Regions from separate parts of the Homo sapiens genome. Here regions 1, 3 and 4 are each reported to be linked to region 2. Evidence: microRNA targets listed by miRTarBase, many of them from high-throughput screens and not tested one by one. Region 2 holds a microRNA gene; each other region holds the end of a gene's coding sequence.

Evidence for each region. The annotated mature microRNA hsa-miR-4802-3p reads UACAUGGAUGGAAACCUUCAAGC and lies in region 2 at 1,518-1,540, opposite strand. An mRNA with a match to its seed (bases 2 to 7 or 8) in the 3' UTR can be bound and repressed. Matches are read on the target gene's strand: a 7mer-m8 pairs with bases 2 to 8, a 7mer-A1 pairs with bases 2 to 7 and ends in A, and an 8mer does both.
Region 1: the mRNA of CREBL2 is a reported target of hsa-miR-4802-3p. Seed matches in the 3' UTR shown: 8mer at 869-876.
Region 3: the mRNA of ALDH1A3 is a reported target of hsa-miR-4802-3p. Seed matches in the 3' UTR shown: 7mer-A1 at 1,787-1,793.
Region 4: miRTarBase lists LZIC as a target of hsa-miR-4802-3p. Seed matches in the 3' UTR shown: 7mer-m8 at 2,752-2,758.

What each region holds. Positions count from the first base shown.
Region 1 is chr12:12,641,477-12,644,644 of GRCh38, forward strand. CREBL2 (cAMP responsive element binding protein like 2) reads left to right here. Exons shown (of 4, transcript NM_001310.4): 4 at 518-3,168. The coding sequence ends at 522. Among named protein-coding and RNA genes, the nearest start is that of CREBL2, 31 kb to the left of the region's middle. RefSeq lists an enhancer at 1,836-3,035.
Region 2 is chr4:40,500,534-40,503,701 of GRCh38, forward strand. MIR4802 (microRNA 4802) reads right to left here and starts at 1,586; the gene lies at 1,507-1,586. All of the region lies in intron 2 of RBM47 (RNA binding motif protein 47), which reads right to left.
Region 3 is chr15:100,914,356-100,917,523 of GRCh38, forward strand. ALDH1A3 (aldehyde dehydrogenase 1 family member A3) reads left to right here. Exons shown (of 13, transcript NM_000693.4): 13 at 346-2,271. The coding sequence ends at 418. All of the region lies in intron 1 of ALDH1A3-AS1 (ALDH1A3 antisense RNA 1), which reads right to left. Among named protein-coding and RNA genes, the nearest start is that of ALDH1A3-AS1, 3.3 kb to the right of the region's middle.
Region 4 is chr1:9,927,730-9,930,886 of GRCh38, reverse strand. LZIC (leucine zipper and CTNNBIP1 domain containing) reads left to right here. Exons shown (of 8, transcript NM_032368.5): 8 at 430-3,157. The coding sequence ends at 488. Among named protein-coding and RNA genes, the nearest start is that of LZIC, 14 kb to the left of the region's middle. RefSeq lists enhancers at 1-74, 2,564-3,073.

The DNA of each region.
Region 1 (3,168 bases), not on the chromosome of region 2:
TTTTGTATTTTTAGTAGAGACAGGGTTTCACCATGTTGGCCAGGCTGGTCTTGAACTCCTGACTTCAGGTAATTCACCCGCCTTGGCCTCCCAAAGTGCTAGGATTACAGGTGTGAGCTACCACGCCCATCTAGAACAAACTTCTTATGTTTTCAGTATTTTTTACAAAATTGAAGAAATCGGCTTTTTGATAACTTTTATTAGATAACATTTGTCTTCATCTAGGTTGACAAGTGCACTAAAATATCAGACTCCACCACTATACAATTCACCCACGTAACCAAAAACCACTTCTACCCCAAAAGCTACTGAAATGTTTAAAAATTAAAACATTTGGCTTCATCTAAATTAAATTAATGGAAAAAAGCCAAATCAGCTTTTTTTTAGTCTGTATTTTTAAAAATTAGCCTTACTGAAGATACTAAACTGAAAAAAAAAATTTATGCATCTTAAAACAGATTAATCAAACTTTATTGACTCTAAAAACATTCTTACATTGGTAACTTTTATTTTTCAGGGTGAAGATTATATAAAGATGAGTCAGTGATTGAAGCCAATATTCTGATTCCCATGGAAGATGGATGGGCAAGAGTGTACTTCTTGGCTCCATTTACTACCTACTGCTCAGTAGTCATCTCTGTAAATCTGCAATTTCTACCAAAATGTGTGATCGTAGATCTCAAAGGATCTTGCTTTAACTTTCAACACTTAGAAAATCTACAAACATTCAGACCTGTCTGGGTTGGTATTGCCACCCATGACATTTAACATGTTGTGATGCTTGAAAACACAGGAGTAGAGAAAATCGATGAAGATTGTATTTTTGCACCTTAACTCCACATTGCTTTATTGGTTAATTTATATTCTTTCCATGTAATTCATGTAATTGTATGTCTGTGTGTGTTTTATGTGTCACCACCTTTCATGTTTTTGATTGCCCTACAAAGAGAAACCAAATGAGCTGATTACTGACTATAAGTTCTCAGCCTTTATGGACCTAATCTTATTTTTATTTACTTGAGTAATGTTTATTCTCTGCATGAACCATGATTTCTCCTGTGAGCCATTCCAGCATAAGCTGTGAATATGTATTAACAAATATATACATTTCTATTTTTATAATCCATAAGGATATGCCTGTTTTAAATAACATACATATTAACAATATCTATCAGGAAAACCCTCAAGACAGCTTCTAGTTAAAACCTTTGTTGCTGTCCTCTCAAACTATATTTATAAAAATTTGCTAGGGCCAAATCCATACTTGCAGAATAATTCATCAAATTTTATTTTTAAGTGAAAAGTAACCTTTCAGGCATTTCAGCAGCATACATTGACAATCTAGGGTATATATGTATGTATGTTTCTTATTGTATGTCTATATATGTATGTGGGGAGGACAGGAGTGAATGTTCACACACTTTTCTTGCGTACTCAACTAAATTGGAGAATGTTTCTGAAGAAAATTGGATGAAATTAGCTGCTGAGATTGAGTTTCTGCCTTAAAATCTGAAACAAAAAAAGGGACAAATTGCTGGTAGATCTACTGACTGTAGCCATCACCAGAACACTTAGTTTCTTCCCAGACATGAATTTCCTGACAGGCTCTGAGCCAGAAACACACTGTGGGCGTGCATCTGGTTCAGCCCTGGATATGCCTCCACTGTGGAGGGAAGCATTGGAACTGGAGTTGTGCACAGCACCGCAGCTAGTGGGCCTGGCTGGGGGTGCAGAAGGGCAGGGTAGTTCTTTCCATTTCCCCTTGCAGCTACACTTACTTTCTCCCTGACTACCAAATGGAGTGACGGTTGAAGAATCAAGCTCATAATATGATACACCCAGACAGACCCAGAAATCTTTTGATTTCCCCAGCGAGATACTTACCACTCTCTCTTCTCTTTCCCATGGTTAAAACAGGAGTTGTGTTCTCTGTCGCTGCTAAATTATTCTTCACTTGAGTGAAGCAAATATTTAGCTTCCAAATAAAGTATATTTTGTTCTGAACTGGCAGTTTAAGAGGAGATACCGTAGTCTAGATTGTCTTTGAGGTAGAATATATGATGGACCACATAGTTTAAGATTACAAGGTACTTTCCCTCTTCTCTCAGGCCATGCATTTGAATAAAGTGCCTCCCTTAGCCTGAGCTCCTAAAGACCTCTTGTACTTGGTTGCAAACTCAGATCTCTAGTCTAGTCTAGTCTAGTCTAGTCTAGTCATGTGTGACTGTGTACTGAGATACCACTAGCCCAGTTTGCTGGGTCTCTATGTTTTGGAAGTTGGGGGTTTAATAATATTTAATGTCTTTTTAGGATCATAAACATAAATAGGTTTGTTGATATTCAGGCCTTCAGAATTTAAGGGTTTTAAATATAGCATTCAGATTGTAATTGGTATGTTTTTGCCATCTGGTCCACTCAATTGTATATTTTTATTTTGCAAAACAACCCAAAACTTACTTTATGTTGCTTTGTTCAGTACCTTTTGAATTCCCCCAGAAGAGTTGTTTTCAAAACAAACATTCCAGAATGAATGTCGCTCTTCAATGGAACGTCTTTATTGTGCTTGAAGTATTTCTTCTCTGGTTGTAATTCTAAATTACAGAGTCATTTGAGCTTTCTCCCCTCCCGCTAGTATCTTTACAGGAGCAGGGAAGAGCAGTAGAGGATGTATAATTTTGGGCGAAGTTAAATTACAATTTATTTGAGGTTATTCCTAAACCTATTTATTTGGTGTTTTGGAGGAGATCACACACTAAGAGAACGTTGATTGCCTCGGCTATTGTGCTGGCTGGACACTTTGGTCACTTTTGAAGCATGTTAATAAATGTCACTGATTAAAACAGCTGGAGCATTTCCTTCCCTTTCCAGTGAAGGAGCAGCATAGTGAAATCCTGGCACCCCTCACCTTTTTGTGATGACAAGATGGCTGACAGTCACGGAGTCCAGGAGAAGGTGCTGCTCTCCTTGCTTTCTGAGTAAACAGAGTAATGTTTTTTTTCTTATTTTCCCAAAGAAAGAAAAGGGGGAAAATATATTTGTATGTTTAGACCAGCCAAATTCTGTCATTATTTTAGTATCAACCTGCTGTATATTAGAGCAACTGAATATAATATGGAATAAGTTTGACCAGGTCAAGTTTTAGGATATAGTTGAATTTCTTTAAAAAGT
Region 2 (3,168 bases):
CCAGGAGGTCGAGGCTGCAGTGAGCCATGACTGTGCCTGGGTGATAAAGCAAGACCCTATCTCCAAATATATATATATATAAAACCAACAAAAGTTTCATCTACTTGACCCTAAACAACTTGCCTTAATTTTGTACTTAATGAATTGGTCATAGGTATAGCCTTGCAGGGATAACAACATAGTACATAAACTTCTGAATTTTACCAAATGAATTAGAAGGTAGTTTAAGTCATTTTAAAAAATAATTTAGCAACTTTTCTTATGCTTTCTCAATACATTTAAAACCTGATTGACTTACCAGATGTTCCTTAACCACAATTTTTTCAGTAACAAATCTATCACAGAAAACACTGACCATGGTCGTGACATTCTTTGGTTTTCTATCACGTCTCTTACTCAGGTTTCACTTGTTTCTGAATTTCAAATTCTAAGGTTTGAAAAAATATCTGCAAGTCAATATTTAAACTGGCCACTGGCAATGATTATGTTCTTCATTAAGTTCCTCAATGTTAAAAAAAAAAACAAAACAGCAATATAAAACAAGCGATCCCGGGTGACTGAAGTTTTAACTCAGAGTCCAAATGCTGCATAGAAGAGCAGCTGCTGGCTTCATTTATCGTGACGAGTAAAATAAAACATAGGAAAACAGTCGCAGTTTTAATTTAAGCATAATCTAAACTTCAACTTGATCCTTGCAATGTAGCATCATACCTTATGGAGAAACATGAAGACAAAGGTTGTAATAAAATTTGGATGATAAAAAAAGTTGGATGACAAAGAAGATGTGGAAAGCAGAAAGAGGATTGGTATGCAAAACCCATTTAGGTTCTGCTGCTCACAGTTCTAACCTCAGAGGGTGGAGAGATACACAGCCCATACTTCACATAGTCAGATGCTGAAAACAAGCATCTAGGCCAGTGCCATCCAACAGAGCTTTCTGTAATGATGGAAACACTCTGCGTCTGCACCGTCTAATACAAAAGCCACTGATACGCATGTGCCACAAAGTCCTTGGCATGTGTGTAGTGCAAACAAGGAATTATTTCATTTAATTTTAAACAAATTTAAATAACTGCACTGCATGCAGCTATGGGCTACCATATTGGACAACACATGTCTGTGTTCACAGGGTAGCTCCTGGACAGAAGAATGAGAGATTTGGGGCAGAGTTAGATCAGTAAGTCTTAGAAATGCTGCACCCACTCTGGTGGAGAAGCTAATCTAACTAATGCCTTTTCCATTGCAATGGTGAGCAGAAGCTTCCAATACACTTTAATACACTATTAGAAATGTGTGATCAACTTTTCTCAAGAGTCAACAGATGCTCAGATAAGAGTGAAATAAAGCTCAGAAACTCAGAAAATAGTGGCCCTATTTTCAGTCTTTTAGTTCTTCTTCTCCAGAGGCAGAATTCCCTTTCTGATGCTGACATTAATTACCCACTCAACACCACCACAAGCCCCACAGCGAGGCCCTCAAATGCACACATCTTCTTCCACCTGTCTCCTGCTTGGCCTGCTTGAAGGTTTCCATCCATGTAGACTTGAACACTAACATGGTCTAGAACCTCCATACAAGCCAGTCAGCTCAATAGAATGAATTTACAGAGGCCAAGCTTGAGCATTTTGTAACTGTTTCTGACATATGTCTAAAGCAGGTTGGACTGCCTCACTTCTTGGATGAGAAGGGTGGGTACGTCACATTGGACAAATCACCTGTTATATTGTTTTCATGTTGACACATTTCCCACAGCAAATTTGTTTGATGTGTCCTTGTTATTCTGTTCAAAAAATGGAGTCCAGAACGTCATTTGATGAATATAGCCTGGTCTGAATTGAAGGGAAGTCAAGCATGAAGGAGGAAGTGGACTGAACTCCCTGAATGCTGCTGAGAAATGCTTCCCCAGCTAAGACAGTGTTTTTCCCATCTCTCTGGTAAGGAGGGGTGAGAAGAGGTGAGGAAGAGAGGCCAATGAGTGCTCGTGAATCAGTAAGACTCCAACGACACAGAACTTGAGAACAGTTGAATTTGCTGGGTGCAGTGGCTCAGGCCTGTAATCCCAGCATTTTGGGAAGCTGAGGCAGGAAGATTGCTTGAGCCCAGGAGTTCAAGACCAGCCTGGGCAACATGGGGAAACGCCATCTTTACAAAAAAATTTAAAAGTCAGCCAGGTGTGGTGACATGCACCTGTAGCTCCAGCTATTCAGGAGGTTGAGGCAGGAAGATCACTTGAGCCCAGGAGGTTGAGGCTGCAGTGAGCAGTAATCATATTGCTGTACTCCAGCCTGGGTTGAGAGAGCAAAACCCTGTCCGAAAAAAAAGACGGCTGGGCGTGGTGGCTCATGCCTACGATCCCAGCACTTTGGGAGGCCAAGGCAGGATGATTGCTTGAGGCTAGGAGTTCAAGACCATCCTCGTCAACATAGTGTAACATTGTACAACCCTGTCTGTACAAAAAAAAAAAAAAAAAAGAATGGAAAAAGAAAACAGTTGAATTTGTTAAGCCTGGACAGACAGAGGACAGTGTTACATCACAGACTCAGAAACAGTGACTAAAGTCTGACATTTCTATCTTCCCTCCTCCTTCACTTCCTGTCTTTGAAACAAGCACTACAAAGACATGAAATCAGAACCTAAAACTGAGAAGAAAGAAAAACTGTCACAGGAGTATGATGAGTCTGCATTAGGCAAAGGACTCTCCTGACAAGGTGGCCTCAAGGTGGAAGGAGGCTGGGTAGATGCTTTTGGAGGTGCTGATGGCCATTAGTAGGTGGTGGGCATTGGGAAGAGTAGGTGTACTTCACATCATGGATGAGGGGATTATTCATGAGAGGTGATTTGCAGGTTTGCCTCTAAGGGAGGACAAGAGTGAAAGAGGAGGAGTGGGTACCAGCAATGCCAGTCCTGGACGTTCTGAAAAGATGCAGAGGATTCCAGTTTGAGAAGTGCTACTAGCGGTGTCCACTGGAAGGTCAAAAAGGTGAAGGTGAAGGGCAGCAGAGACAGTGACTGTGGTTACCCCTCACTGCTGCCCCTCACCTTGGACAGTGTTTACTGTCATTGTCTTGTAGATTTGCCAGCAGAAGGCTTTTAATTATTTCAGTTATTTTTAGAAATAATATGTATTATATGCTGCTTCTCATTATATAAGAAACTCATGGAAAGCAT
Region 3 (3,168 bases), not on the chromosome of region 2:
GTCCACCAGGCTCTCTCGTTTTGCTCTCTATTGCCACCCCAGGGAATTCACCTCTTTACTTTTTTTAAAATCCCCTTCATTCTCTAAAGGGAAACCCTTAGTCCTGGCCATTTCAAAAGCATCACACAGAAGAAGACCTTGATATTTACATTTAAGTCACATATGCAGCTACTGACACTTACTAGTGCTGTTATAGTCCTGGCTATTATTCCATGAGGTCGTCACATTTTAACCTTTTGCATAAGCCTCCAACGGCCTGATGGAATGATGAAGCCTCAGAACAGTTTCTACACAATGGCTAAGGGATGTACCCATTTTGAATTTTCCTCTTTTCTGTGATCACAGAGGTGAATACGCTTTGGCCGAATACACAGAAGTGAAAACTGTCACCATCAAACTTGGCGACAAGAACCCCTGAAGGAAAGGCGGGGCTCCTTCCTCAAACATCGGACGGCGGAATGTGGCAGATGAAATGTGCTGGAGGAAAAAAATGACATTTCTGACCTTCCCGGGACACATTCTTCTGGAGGCTTTACATCTACTGGAGTTGAATGATTGCTGTTTTCCTCTCACTCTCCTGTTTATTCACCAGACTGGGGATGCCTATAGGTTGTCTGTGAAATCGCAGTCCTGCCTGGGGAGGGAGCTGTTGGCCATTTCTGTGTTTCCCTTTAAACCAGATCCTGGAGACAGTGAGATACTCAGGGCGTTGTTAACAGGGAGTGGTATTTGAAGTGTCCAGCAGTTGCTTGAAATGCTTTGCCGAATCTGACTCCAGTAAGAATGTGGGAAAACCCCCTGTGTGTTCTGCAAGCAGGGCTCTTGCACCAGCGGTCTCCTCAGGGTGGACCTGCTTACAGAGCAAGCCACGCCTCTTTCCGAGGTGAAGGTGGGACCATTCCTTGGGAAAGGATTCACAGTAAGGTTTTTTGGTTTTTGTTTTTTGTTTTCTTGTTTTTAAAAAAAGGATTTCACAGTGAGAAAGTTTTGGTTAGTGCATACCGTGGAAGGGCGCCAGGGTCTTTGTGGATTGCATGTTGACATTGACCGTGAGATTCGGCTTCAAACCAATACTGCCTTTGGAATATGACAGAATCAATAGCCCAGAGAGCTTAGTCAAAGACGATATCACGGTCTACCTTAACCAAGGCACTTTCTTAAGCAGAAAATATTGTTGAGGTTACCTTTGCTGCTAAAGATCCAATCTTCTAACGCCACAACAGCATAGCAAATCCTAGGATAATTCACCTCCTCATTTGACAAATCAGAGCTGTAATTCGCTTTAACAAATTACGCATTTCTATCACGTTCACTAACAGCTTATGATAAGTCTGTGTAGTCTTCCTTTTCTCCAGTTCTGTTACCCAATTTAGATTAGTAAAGCGTACACAACTGGAAAGACTGCTGTAATAACACAGCCTTGTTATTTTTAAGTCCTATTTTGATATTAATTTCTGATTAGTTAGTAAATAACACCTGGATTCTATGGAGGACCTCGGTCTTCATCCAAGTGGCCTGAGTATTTCACTGGCAGGTTGTGAATTTTTCTTTTCCTCTTTGGGGATCCAAATGATGATGTGCAATTTCATGTTTTAACTTGGGAAACTGAAAGTGTTCCCATATAGCTTCAAAAACAAAAACAAATGTGTTATCCGACGGATACTTTTATGGTTACTAACTAGTACTTTCCTAATTGGGAAAGTAGTGCTTAAGTTTGCAAATTAAGTTGGGGAGGGCAATAATAAAATGAGGGCCCGTAACAGAACCAGTGTGTGTATAACGAAAACCATGTATAAAATGGGCCTATCACCCTTGTCAGAGATATAAATTACCACATTTGCCTTCCCTTCATCAGCTAACACTTATCACTTATACTACCAATAACTTGTTAAATCAGGATTTGGCTTCATACACTGAATTTTCAGTATTTTATCTCAAGTAGATATAGACACTAACCTTGATAGTGATACGTTAGAGGGTTCCTATTCTTCCATTGTACGATAATGTCTTTAATATGAAATGCTACATTATTTATAATTGGTAGAGTTATTGTATCTTTTTATAGTTGTAAGTACACAGAGGTGGTATATTTAAACTTCTGTAATATACTGTATTTAGAAATGGAAATATATATAGTGTTAGGTTTCACTTCTTTTAAGGTTTACCCCTGTGGTGTGGTTTAAAAATCTATAGGCCTGGGAATTCCGATCCTAGCTGCAGATCGCATCCCACAATGCGAGAATGATAAAATAAAATTGGATATTTGAGAAACATTGTGCTTTTTCATTTAAAGACCAAAGTCATTTGAATTCGATGGCAGGCCTTTCTCTTTCTGAGACCTGTACGAAATGGCTGATATTAAAGCAGGATCAATAATGTAAGCATAAAATTACATTTGCTCAGTCAGTCGGGCCCAGTGCTTTGCCTGAGTGTGAAACCCATTTCTGTGGGCTTGGGGGTTGACCAGGCAAGGAGCTGGGCCTCAGAGGTTCCATGTCATAGCTGGCTGAGTTTCAGCTGTTATCTAAGCTGCCTGAGTCTCCTTTTATCATAAAGTAGTGATGGTGTCAGTGTGCGAAATGGTGGGGAGGACTGCATGAGGATTGACGGACAGCATTGTGCCCCTGACGGTGAGCACAAGTGTCTGTTTTTGTCACCTTTTCCTCTAGAGAAATCTAGAGGATCTAGAGAAAGGATCAATTTGGGTTTTACTGACCTCAAGTTTCTAAAGCTTCTAACCAAGAAGCCTCAATCACCCCGTTGTGAGCTGACGCTGCCATTGGCTCAAGATCATTGCTGGTACTGGGGTATGTCCTCCAAGCTCATCCCTTGCATTTGATGTGGAAAGCCCAGATCATTTTGACATGGGTGGCAAAGCACCACCACTTTAACAAAAAAGGGAGGCTGGGATCAGATCTCTCGTAACATATGCACTTATGTTAAGAGAATTTAGACACATTATTTAGAGACATCCCATTTCTCAATCCAAATGTGAGCAGGAAACTGTAGGAGAAGGATATTTTCCCTCATTTGGTGTCCCGGAACATGACTCCCTGAAGGGAGCCATTCTGGGGACAATTGGAGGGTGTGGTATGCGTGTGCACACATGCATTTGTGTGCCTGGTGTGCGTGTGGGGGTTGGCACCTCTCTAGAAGTGGACCCTTTGG
Region 4 (3,157 bases), not on the chromosome of region 2:
TGGCTGGGCATGGTGGCACGTGCCTGTAATCCCAGCTACTAGGGAGGCTGAGGCAAGGATAATTGCTTGAACCCAGGAGGTGGAAGTTGCAGTGAGCCGAGATCGCACCACTGCACTCCAGCCTGGGCGACAAGAGCGAAACTCCATCTCAAAAAAATAAATAAATAAATAAATTAAATTTTACATATTATATTTCATAGCTAGAATAAGGATTTATAACTAATAAGTCCCCCTTTGTAGCTGGATTGTTTGTGCAGAGGGAAGGAAATTGGGATGGCAATGGGAACGTGTAGGGGTTAATACACTGATAATGGAGGCTAATTATATTTTCTGTTTTAATATCTATATGATAGATTTTTTCCCACTTTACCAGGAATTGCAACTGCACTTGAAATAATCTTTTTGTTTATTATGTGTCTTTTTTCTTAGGCTCTGGAGACAAAATTCTTGCTCTGGCAAGTTTTGAGGTTGAAAAAACAAAAAAATGACATGGTGCAGAAGCTTGTAACATTGATCACATTCTTAATGTAAATGGTGTCTTTCTTCTGGGGTTTTCAGTTATTGCAAAGAAATGAAGAGATTCTGGAAATGCATCAATAACCTAAGAAAAAGCGACATAAAAATATACTTATGGCTTGTGTTTATGCTCTTCATCATTGTGCGTTGTGTGCGGTTACCTGCTTGAGTGATCCTGAACTTGTTGCGACAGAGGGACTCACTGGACTCTGTTCGTTATGATTTGTCTGTTTAAGAGAGAAAACAAAGTGGACTTGATTTTTATTAAGGCTGTTTGTTTTTAAGTGTTGATAGTGAACGAAAAGATGTGAAGTAATGATATTTTTCTGCTTACAACTTATCCCCACTCATTGGAGTGAACAGTGACGCAAGCTCAATAGACTTCATAAGTGTTCATAGAATTTTACAATTCTGAGTGATCTTAGAAATCATTTCTGTTTTTACAAACAAGGAAACTGAGGTCCAGAAAGAGCAAGCGACTTTGCTTAAAGTCGCATCAGAGAGCTGAGGGTAAGACTCAGGTGTCCTGACTCCCAGTTTAGTATCTTTTGAATTTTATTTCTGTACCATTTAAAAAAAATAATTAACACTATTTGTGCAAGTCAGTGTTTTTGAAAATTCAGTGTCCCAATAAAAAGTGGACTGCACACTAAGGGACCATCCCCCAGCCTGTAAGCTGTCTGTATTAATGGGGCCCGTTGTATCTCGGAATTTTGAGGTTGGAACAATGGGAGCCCTGTTGAGCGTTTCCTAAAGTGACTTAGCCGCCTGCGTTGTTTGACCAGGGAAGCAACAGGAAATGGCAGCTAGAGGCCCTCCCTGTGCGTGACCTCTTGTCACACTCAGAGGGGGGTAACTGTCAGCTGTTATCTACTCTTCAGGTTTTGGAGAAACACAAAATAAGTTATGAGGAAAAGCAAATTTCTCTCCTGAGTATTTACATGTCTCTGTATGCTCAAATATGCAGATGTGTCCCTATGCGTGTATATTAGCTTATTTTTTAGGCTCTAGCCATTTTATATTCTTTCATGTGCTTCTCAATATTCTTTTTCTTTGCACTTTATACAAATTAAAAGCATTTTTAAAGCTTCTTCTGTACTGTAAACTACTAGGTGCTTTGCCAACCAGACAGATTAGAGGACCTCCGCTACACTGATGCCTTATTTGGAACTTAAAAGAGGTGAAATTCATATATCATAAAATTCACCATTTTAAAGTGTACCATTCGTTGGCAGAACATTTACAGTGGTGTGCAACCATCACTACTCTCTAGTTGCAGAACATTCTTATCACCCCCAAAGGAGGCCCTATACCTATTAAGCAGTTAGTCCCCATTCCCTTCTCCTCCGACTGCTAACAATAGCCACTAATCTGCACCCTGTCTCTGTGGATTTACCTATTCTGGATATTTCATATAAATGGAATCATATGATATGTGACCTTTTTATGTATCTGGCTTCTTTCACTTAGCATAATATTTTCTTTTCTTTTTTTTTTTTTTTTTGAGACAGAGTTTTACTCTTATTGCCCAGGCTGGAGTGCAATGGCGCAATCTCAACCTCCGCCTCCCAGGTTCAAGAGATTCTCCTGCCTCAGCTTCCCAAGTAGCTGGGATTACTAGTGTGTACCACCACGCCCAGCTAATTTTTGTACCTTTAGTATAGAGACAGGGTTTCACCATGTTGGCCCAGCTGGTCCTGAGCTGACCTCAGGTGATCCAACTGCCTCGGCCTCCCAAAGTGCTGGGATTATAGGTGTGAGCTACCACACCGGGACATCATCATATTTTCAAGTTTAACCAACATTATAGCATGTATCAGTACTTTATTCCTTTTTATGGCTAAATAATATTCCATTGTATGGATATCATATTTTGTTTATCCGGTATCTGTTGATGATTTGGGTTGTTTCCTTCTTTTGGCTATTGTGAATAATGCTTCAGTGAACATTTGTGTACAAATATTTGTTTGAATACCTGTTTTCAATTTTTTTGGGTGTACACCTAGGAATGGAATTGCTGCGTTTGTTGTTGTGTTGTTGTTGTTGTCGTTGTTTTTTGAGATGGAGTTTCACTCTGTTGCCCAGGCTGGAGTGCAATGGCGTGATCTCGGCTCACCACAACTTCTGCCTCCCAGGTTCAAGCGATTCTCCTGCCTCAGCCTCCCGAGTAGCTGGGATTAAGGCATGCGCCACCACACCTGGCTAATTTTGTGTTTTTAGTAGAGATGGGGTTTCTCCATGTTGGTCAGGCTGGTCTCGAACTCCTGACCTTAGGTGATCCACCCGCCTCAACCTCCCAGAGTGCTGGGATGATTACAGGCATGAGCCACCATACCCGGCCTGAGCCACCACACCCAGCCTACGTTTGTTTTTTAAGCCATAGAAGATTCTTCCCACCAGTCGGGCACAGTGGCTCACACCTGTAATCCCAGCACTTCAGGAGGCCAAGGCGGGCGGATCACAAGATCAGGAGCTCAAGACCAGCCTGGCCAACACAGTGAAACTCCATCTCTACAAAAATTAGCCAGGCATAGTGGCAGGTGCCTGTAGTCTCAGCTACTTGGGAGACTGAGGCAGGAGAATCACTTGAACCTGGGAGGCAGAGGTTTCGGTGAGCCGAGATGGCGCCACTGCACTCCAG